Regions from separate parts of the Homo sapiens genome. Here regions 2 and 3 are each linked to region 1. The links come from fine-mapping of genetic effects on gene expression. A gene starts in region 1. Each other region holds a variant in brackets. All regions are shown on one strand. Distances are from middle to middle.

The links. PIP is the estimated chance that this variant, and not a neighbour inherited with it, causes the effect. A credible set is the group of variants that fine-mapping cannot tell apart.
Region 2: its variant is the best candidate, but not a certain one, in a credible set for the expression of RASSF1 in spleen (GTEx, PIP 0.56).
Region 3: its variant is the best candidate, but not a certain one, in a credible set for the expression of RASSF1 in whole blood (TOPMed, PIP 0.76).

Annotation. Positions count from the first base shown.
Region 1 is chr3:50,339,439-50,342,193 of GRCh38, reverse strand. It overlaps RASSF1 (Ras association domain family member 1), which reads left to right and starts at 1,358. Exons shown (of 6, transcript NM_007182.5): 1 at 1,358-1,638. The coding sequence starts at 1,389. ZMYND10 (zinc finger MYND-type containing 10) reads left to right here. Exons shown (of 12, transcript NM_015896.4): 9 at 54-179; 10 at 263-384; 11 at 495-620; 12 at 709-1,082. The coding sequence ends at 784. RefSeq lists enhancers at 607-1,429, 1,430-2,253 and a silencer at 1,099-1,618.
Region 2 is chr3:50,309,055-50,311,809 of GRCh38, reverse strand. It overlaps a transcript of HYAL1 not described here. Among named protein-coding and RNA genes, the nearest start is that of HYAL1, 6.9 kb to the right of the region's middle. The variant T/G (reference allele first, on the strand shown) is at 1,646.
Region 3 is chr3:51,095,445-51,098,199 of GRCh38, reverse strand. The region is part of intron 9 of DOCK3 (dedicator of cytokinesis 3); the gene reads right to left. Among named protein-coding and RNA genes, the nearest start is that of MANF, 290 kb to the left of the region's middle. The variant G/A (reference allele first, on the strand shown) is at 1,323.

The DNA.
Region 1 (2,755 bases):
GGCCCCCTGGCCAGCACCTGCATCACACTGGCCTCCACTGGACACCCTTGCAGCTTCGGGCCTTCCTCACAGACACACTGCTGGACCAGCTGCCCAACCTGGCCCACTTGCAGAGTTTCCTGGCCCATCTGACCCTAACTGAAACCCAGCCTCCTAAGAAGGACCTGGTGTTGGAACAGGTAGGCACTGGAAAGTTAGCTGCTCAGGACCACTGTCCCACTTTACCAGCACCTTCCTGCCACTCTCCACTTCTCTCTCCTAGATCCCAGAAATCTGGGAGCGGCTGGAGCGAGAAAACAGAGGCAAGTGGCAGGCAATTGCCAAGCACCAGCTCCAGCATGTGTTCAGCCCCTCAGAGCAGGACCTGCGGCTGCAGGCGCGAAGGTAAGGCCTGTGGAAATGGCAGGGAGGGTGGAGGGGATGCAGGAGGCATGGATGTGGGTGGGGTGCCCCCACCTTCCAGGGCCAGTCAGACCTTCCTGACTTTCCCCCAGGTGGGCTGAGACCTACAGGCTGGATGTGCTAGAGGCAGTGGCTCCAGAGCGGCCCCGCTGTGCTTACTGCAGTGCAGAGGCTTCTAAGCGCTGCTCACGATGCCAGAATGAGTGGTATTGCTGCAGGTGAGGGTATCCTAGAACCTTGGACCTCTAAGCCCTACTCCCACATCCCCCACATGCATTGCCATCCTCAATACCCACCTGCCTGCAGGGAGTGCCAAGTCAAGCACTGGGAAAAGCATGGAAAGACTTGTGTCCTGGCAGCCCAGGGTGACAGAGCCAAATGAGGGCTGCAGTTGCTGAGGGCCGACCACCCATGCCAAGGGAATCCACCCAGAATGCACCCCTGAACCTCAAGATCACGGTCCAGCCTCTGCCGGAGCCCCAGTCTCCGCAGTGGAGAGCAGAGCGGGCGGTAAAGCTGCTGACCGATCTCCCTCCTCCTCACCCCAAGTGAAGGCTCGAGACTTCCTGCCCCACCCAGTGGGTAGGCCAAGTGTGTTGCTTCAGCAAACCGGACCAGGAGGGCCAGGGCCGGATGTGGGGACCCTCTTCCTCTAGCACAGTAAAGCTGGCCTCCAGAAACACGGGTATCTCCGCGTGGTGCTTTGCGGTCGCCGTCGTTGTGGCCGTCCGGGGTGGGGTGTGAGGAGGGGACGAAGGAGGGAAGGAAGGGCAAGGCGGGGGGGGCTCTGCGAGAGCGCGCCCAGCCCCGCCTTCGGGCCCCACAGTCCCTGCACCCAGGTTTCCATTGCGCGGCTCTCCTCAGCTCCTTCCCGCCGCCCAGTCTGGATCCTGGGGGAGGCGCTGAAGTCGGGGCCCGCCCTGTGGCCCCGCCCGGCCCGCGCTTGCTAGCGCCCAAAGCCAGCGAAGCACGGGCCCAACCGGGCCATGTCGGGGGAGCCTGAGCTCATTGAGCTGCGGGAGCTGGCACCCGCTGGGCGCGCTGGGAAGGGCCGCACCCGGCTGGAGCGTGCCAACGCGCTGCGCATCGCGCGGGGCACCGCGTGCAACCCCACACGGCAGCTGGTCCCTGGCCGTGGCCACCGCTTCCAGCCCGCGGGGCCCGCCACGCACACGTGGTGCGACCTCTGTGGCGACTTCATCTGGGGCGTCGTGCGCAAAGGCCTGCAGTGCGCGCGTGAGTAGTGGCCCCGCGCGCCTACGAGAGCGGAAGGGGCAGCCAAGGGGCAGCGCAGTCGCCGCGGGTCAAGTCGCGGCAGAGGGGGTCGGCGGGGACAGCTCCCGAGGACTAGGTCCGTTACTTTCGCCCCATCGCTGAAGAGTGCGCGAAAATGGTTTATCCCTTGTCGCACTCCACTCGTATCTGGGCCACAGATGAGCAGAGGTGGCTGCTTATATGTAAAAATACGCTGATTTTAAGTTTCTTATCTTTAAAATGCCTTGGCCCTTCTTGAGAAAGGGTTTGTGCCTACTGTCCTCGGAGTCCATCTTCCCAGGCTTGCCTCTTCTCAAACACTCATGACCCCCTCCAGAACCTTTAGGGTGAAGGGAAATTACCACCTATGGGAGGGAGCCTGGAAAAATTTAGAACCTTTGGTGGGCCCCCTGCAAGCAGGAGTTTTGTTGAGTCTTTATTTAGCAAACACCCTTTTCTGACCCAGTGAATCAGATGCTAAAATATGCACGCAGCCACACACCCAGCAGTCCTTCTGCACCCCTGGGAATCGCCAGCAAGCAAAGGTTGCTCTCCCCTGGGTAGACACCAGCTGGAATCACCAGGGGTGCTTTTACAGTCCTCCCCGCTAGCCTGGATCCCACCGCAGACCTGTTGAATCAACTGCTGGGAGTGGACCCTAGGCATCAGTAAATTTTAAAAACTCCCCAAATTATTGTAACATGGAGTCTGGGTTGAGCATCACTGCTCTGGCCTATTTAGGAACTTGTGGATGGATAGTGTCCCAGGTCTGTGTGTGCATGGAGACCCTCTCATCCGGTACAAGAGGACATCACAAATTCAGCTGGGGGGAGCACAAAGTTGTGACAGAATGCAAAGAATGAACAAGGGGCCGAGCGCGGTGGCTCATGCCTGTAATCCCAGCACTTCGGAAGGCGGAGGCGGGTGGATCACCTGAGGTCAGGAGTTCAAGACCAGCCTGGCCAACATGGTGAAACCTCATGTCTACTAAAAAATAAAAAAAAATGAGCCAGGCGTAGTGGCGGGTGCCTGTAATCCCAGCTACTCGGGAGGCTGAGGTGGGAGAATTGCTTGAACACAGGAGGCGGAGGTTGCAGTG
Region 2 (2,755 bases), 30 kb after region 1:
GGGGCGCCTCTGCCCGGCCACCCCTACTGGGAAGTGAGGAGCCCCTCTGCCCAGCCAGCCGCCCCGTCCGTGAGGGAGGTGGGGGGATCAGCCCCACGCCCGGCCTGCCGCCCCGTCCGGGAGGGAGGTTGGGGGGTCAGCCCCCCGCCCGGCCAGCCGCCCCATCCGGGAGGGAGGTGGGGGGGTCAGCCCCCCGCCCGGCCAGCCGCCCCGTCCGGGAGGGAGGTGGGGGGGTCAGCCCCCCGCCTGGCTAGCCGCCCCATCCCGGAGGTGAGGGGCGCCTCTGCCCGGCCGCCCCTACTGGGAAGTGAGGAGCCCCTCTGCCCGGCCAGCCGCCCCGTCCGGGAGGGAGGTGGGGGGGGGTCAGCCCCCCGCCTGGCCAGCCGCCCCATCCGGGAGGTGAGGGGCGCCTCTGCCCGGCCGCCCCTACTGGGAAGTGAGGAGCCCCTCTGCCCGGCCAGCCGCCCCGTCCGGGAGGGAGGTGGGGGGGTCAGCCCCCCGCCCGGCCAGCCGCCCCGTCCGGGAAGGAGGTTGGGGGGTCAGCCCCCCGCCCCGGCCGGGAGGGAGTTGGGGGGGTCAGCCCCCCGCCCGGCCAGCCACCCCGTCCGGGAGGTGAGGGGCGCCTCTGCCCGGCTGCCCCTACTGGGAAGTGAGGAGCCCCTCTGCCCGGCCACCACCCCGTCTGGGAGGTGTACCCAACAGCTCATTGAGAACGGGCCATGATGACAATGGCGGTTTTGTGGACTAGAAAGGTGGGAAAGGTGGGGAAAAGATTGAGAAATCGGATGGTTGCCATGTCTGTGTAGAAAGATGTAGACGTGGGAGACTTTTCATTTTGTTCTATACTAAGAAAAATTCTTCTGCCTTGGGATCCTGTTGATCTGTGACCTTACCCCCAACCCTGTGCTCTCTGAAACATGTGCTGTGTCCACTCAGGGTTAAATGGATTAAGGGCGGTGCAAGATGTGCTTTGTTAAACAGACGCTTGAAGGCAGCATGCTCGTTAAGAGTCATCACCACTCCCTAATCTCAAGTACCCAGGGACACAAACACTGCGGAAGGCCGTGGGGTCCTCTGCCTAGGAAAACCAGAGACCTTTGTTCACTTGTTTATCTGCTGACCTTCCCTCCACTATTGTCCTGTGACCCTGCCAAATCCCCCTCTGCGAGAAACACCCAAGAATGATCAATAAAAAAATAATAATTAAAAAAAAAAAAGAAAAAAAAAAGAAAAGAAACCACAGTGGCCGATTGCAGTGGCTCACTCCTGTAATCCCAGCACTTTGGGAGGCCGAGGCGGGCAGATCACGAGGTCAGGAGATCGAGACCATTCTGGCTAACACGGTGAAACCCCATCTCTATTAAAAATACAAAAAAAAAATAGCCGGGCGTGGTGGTGGTTGCCTGTAGTCCCAGCTACTCAGGAGGCTGAGGCAGGAGAATGGCGTGAACCTGAGAGGCGGAGGTTCAGTGAGCTGAGACCCTGCCACTGCACTCCAGCCTGAGTGACAGAGCGGGACTCTGTCTCAAAAAAAAAAAAAAAAACACACAGCTTAGTTTTCAGTGACTCCAAATTAGGAAAATGAAAAAAAAGAAGGAAAAAAATTGAAAACTTAATTTGAAGACTTGTAGCCAAGAAAAATTCA[T/G]TCCAAACTGTAGAAAATCATAAAAATTGGAAGCAAACAAACAAAAAAACAGTTAAGACTAGAATCTAACAACAGGTGAACATTCGTTTTGAAACATGATTTTATTCTCTCTCCAATTTCCCATTTTACTAAAGACAAATCATGGTATGACTTGTTTGCTTATTATACTTGGCCTAAATATTTGTATACAGTGCAGCAAGAATAATTTATTTTGTCCCATAAGAGGAATCTCAGGTAAGACTTTTTAAAGCCCTGCCCAGCCATGGATTTGTGCCATCAAATACCCATGAGTTGGATGGAATTTCCTCTCCTTTCAAGTTCCAAGATAAACATAAACCTGGGGCCTCTGTGCCTGTCAGAAAGTGACATCCTTTTTTTTTTGATCAGGCTAGTCTTGAATTCCTGACCTCAGGTGATCCTCCCGCGTTGGCCTCCCAAAGTGCTGGGATTACAGGCATGAGCCACCACTCCTGGCCCCAGAAAGTGACATTCTTTACTTACCACAGGTAAGAAATCCTGTACAGGGACTGTGTACACAAAATGTGAGGCCAGTTTTCCCAAGGGCTTTATTGGCTCCATAAGTTAAGTTTGATTCCTTAAACGAAAGCACACCATTCCTGTCAAAGTCTTGGTCAAATAATCAATTCCTCCAATTGTGTCCTGTTACAAATGAAAACAGATTCTTTTTTTTTTTTTTTTTTTTGGTGGAGTCTGGCTCTGTTGCCCAGGCTGGAGTGCAATGGTGCAATCTCAGCTCACTGCCACCTCTGCTTCCCAGGTTCAAGCGATTCTACTGCCTTAGCCTCTGGAGTAGCTGGGATTACAGGCATGTGCCACCATGCCCAGCTAATTTTTGTGTTTTTAGTAGAGATGGGGTTTTGCCATGTTGGCCAGGCTGGTCTCGAACTCACAACCTCAGGTGATTTGCCCACCTTGGCCTCCCAAAGTGCTGGGATTACAGGAGTGAGCCACCATGCCAGGCAAAAACAGATTCTTATGGCACTTATGCAAATAACTGTATTGCCATAAGTTAAGAATACTCACAAATAGTTTCCAAATTCTGGAGAAATCAGGTAGAGAAACAAATATGCTCCAAATTTTGTTCATAGG
Region 3 (2,755 bases), 760 kb before region 1:
CTGTAATCCCAGCTGCTCGGGAGGCTGAGGCAGGAGAACAGCTTGAAACCGGAAGGCGGATGTTACAGTGAGCTGAGATCGCATCACTGCACTCCAGTCTGGGCAAAAGAGCAAAACTCCGATCGGTGGCTGGCAAGATGGTCAAATAGGAACAGATCTGGTCTGCAGCTCCCAGCGAGATCAACGCAGAAGGCAGATGATTTCTGCATTTCCAATTGAGGTACCCAGCTCATCTCATTGGGGCTGGTTAGACAGTGGGTATAGCCCATGGAGGGTGAGCTGAAGCAGGGTTGGGCATTGGCTCACCAGGGAAGCACAAGGAGTCAGGGAACTCCCTCCCCTAGCCAAGGAAAGCCGTGAGGGACTGTGCCATGAGGGACAGTGCACTCTGGCCCAGATACTACGCTTTCCCCACGGTCTTCGCAACTCATAGACCAGGAGATTCCCTCAGGTGCCTACGCCACCAGGGCCCTGGATTTCAAGCACAAAACTAGGCGGCCGTTTGGGCAGACACCAAGCTAGCTGCAGGAGTTTTATTTTCATACCCCAGTGGCGCCTGGAGCGCCAGTGAGGTGAGACAGAACCGTTCACTCTCCTGGAAAGGGGACTGAAGCCAGGGAGCCAAGTGGTCTAGCTCAGCAGATCCCACCCCCATGGAGCCCTGGAAGCTAAGATTCACAGACTTGAAATTCTCGCTACCAGCAGAGCACTCTGAATTCAACCTGGGATGCTGGAGCTTGGTAAGGGGAGGGCCAGCCACCATTACTGAGGCTTGAGTAGACAGTTTTCCTGTCACAATGTAAACAAAGCCACCTGGAAGTTCGAACTGGGTGGAGCCCACTGCGCTCCTCAAAGCCTCTGTAGCCAGACTGCCTCTCTAGATTCCTCCACTCTGGGAAGGGCATCTATGAAAGAAACTCAGCAACCCCAGTCAGGGCCTTACAGAACAAACTCCCATCTCCCTGGGACAGAGCACCTGGGGGAAGGGGTGGCTGTGGGCACAGCTTCAGCAGACTTAAATGCTCCTGCCTGTGAATCTGAAGACAGCAACGGATCTCCCAACACAGCGCTTGAGCTCTGCTGAGGGACAGACTGTCTCCTCAAGTGGGTCCCTGATCCCTGTGCCTCCTGACTGGGAGACACCTCCCAGCAGGGGTCGACAGACACCTCATACAGGAGAGCTCTGGCTGGCATCTGGTGGGTGCCCCTCTGGGACGAAGCTTCCAGAGGAAGGAACATTGCTGTTCTGCAGCTTCCGCTGGTGATACCCAGGCAAACAGGGTCTAGAAAGGACCTCCTGCAAACTCCAGCAGACCTGGAAA[G/A]CTAACAAACAGAAAGAAATAGCATCAACGTCAACAAAAAGGATGTCCACACAGAAACCCTATCCGGAGGTCACCAACATCAAAGATCAAAGGTAGATAAATCCACGAAGATGAGGAAAACCCAGTGCAAAAAGGCTGAAAATTCCAAAAACCGGAACGCCTCTTCTCCAAAGGATCACAACTCCTCACCAGCAAGGCAACAAAACTGGATAGAGAATGAGTTTGGTGAATTGACAGAAGTAGGCTTCAGAAGGTGGGTAATAACAAACTCCTCCAAGCTAAAGGAGCATGTTCTAACCCAATGCAAGGAAGCTAAGAACCTTGAAAAAGATTAGAGGAATTGCTAACTACAATAACCAGTTTAGAGAAGAACATAAATGACCTGATGGGGCAGAAAAACACAGCACAGCTTCACTTCGTGAAGCATACACAAGTATCAATAGCCGAATTGATCAAGTGGAAGAAAGGATATCAGAGACTGAAGATCAACTTAATGAAATAAAGTGTGAAGAAAAGATTAGAGAAAAAAAAAAGAAAAGAAAAGGAATGAACAAAAGCCTCCAAGAAATATGGGACTATGTGAAAAAACCAAACCTATGTTTGATTGGTGTACCTGAAAGTGACGGGGAGAATGGAACCAAGTTGGAAAACACTCTTCAGGATATTATGCAGGAGAACTTCCCCAACCTAGTAAGAAAGGCCAACATTCAAATTCAGGAAATATAGAGAACACCACAAAGATACTCCTTGAGAAGAGCAACCCCAAGACACAAGAGCAACCCCAAGACACATAATCGTCAGATTCACCAAGGTTGAGATGAAGAAAAAAATGTTAAAGGCAACCAGAGGAAAAGGTCGGGTTACCCACAAAGGGAAGCCCATCAGACTAACAGTGGATCTCTCTGCAGAAGCTTTACAAGCCAGAGAGCGTGGGGGCCAATAGTCAACATTCTTTTTTTTTTTTTTTTGCCAGAGAGCATGGGGGCCAATAGTCAACATTCTTTTTTTTTTTTTTTTTTTTTTTTTGCTAACCTTATTTATGTCACTTAAGGATTGACATTTGAAAAGAATGAGAGAATGAAGGGTGTTAGTTTAATGAGCATGAAATGTTTTATATGCTGTTATAAGAATTGAGAGAGCTTTTGAGTATTACCTTTCTCCACTAAAAGTTGGGTAAGATGGGGTGAAAAGCTTTAAAACAAATAACAGGTAAAATTAGATAAAGTAATCTGTATAACCAGAAGATAAAGATCAAATGTAAATGTTAAAAGGGCTGCATTTTGCACTAGACAATGCAAATTCCACCATCAAGTTGGTATTAAGAAACTGGGAGATTCTGGATTCTGGTGTTGTCAGTTCCAGGCTTTTTTAATACCCCAAGGAGGGCTGTGGTTGAAGCTCTAGTCAACATTCTTAAAGAATTTTCAACCCAG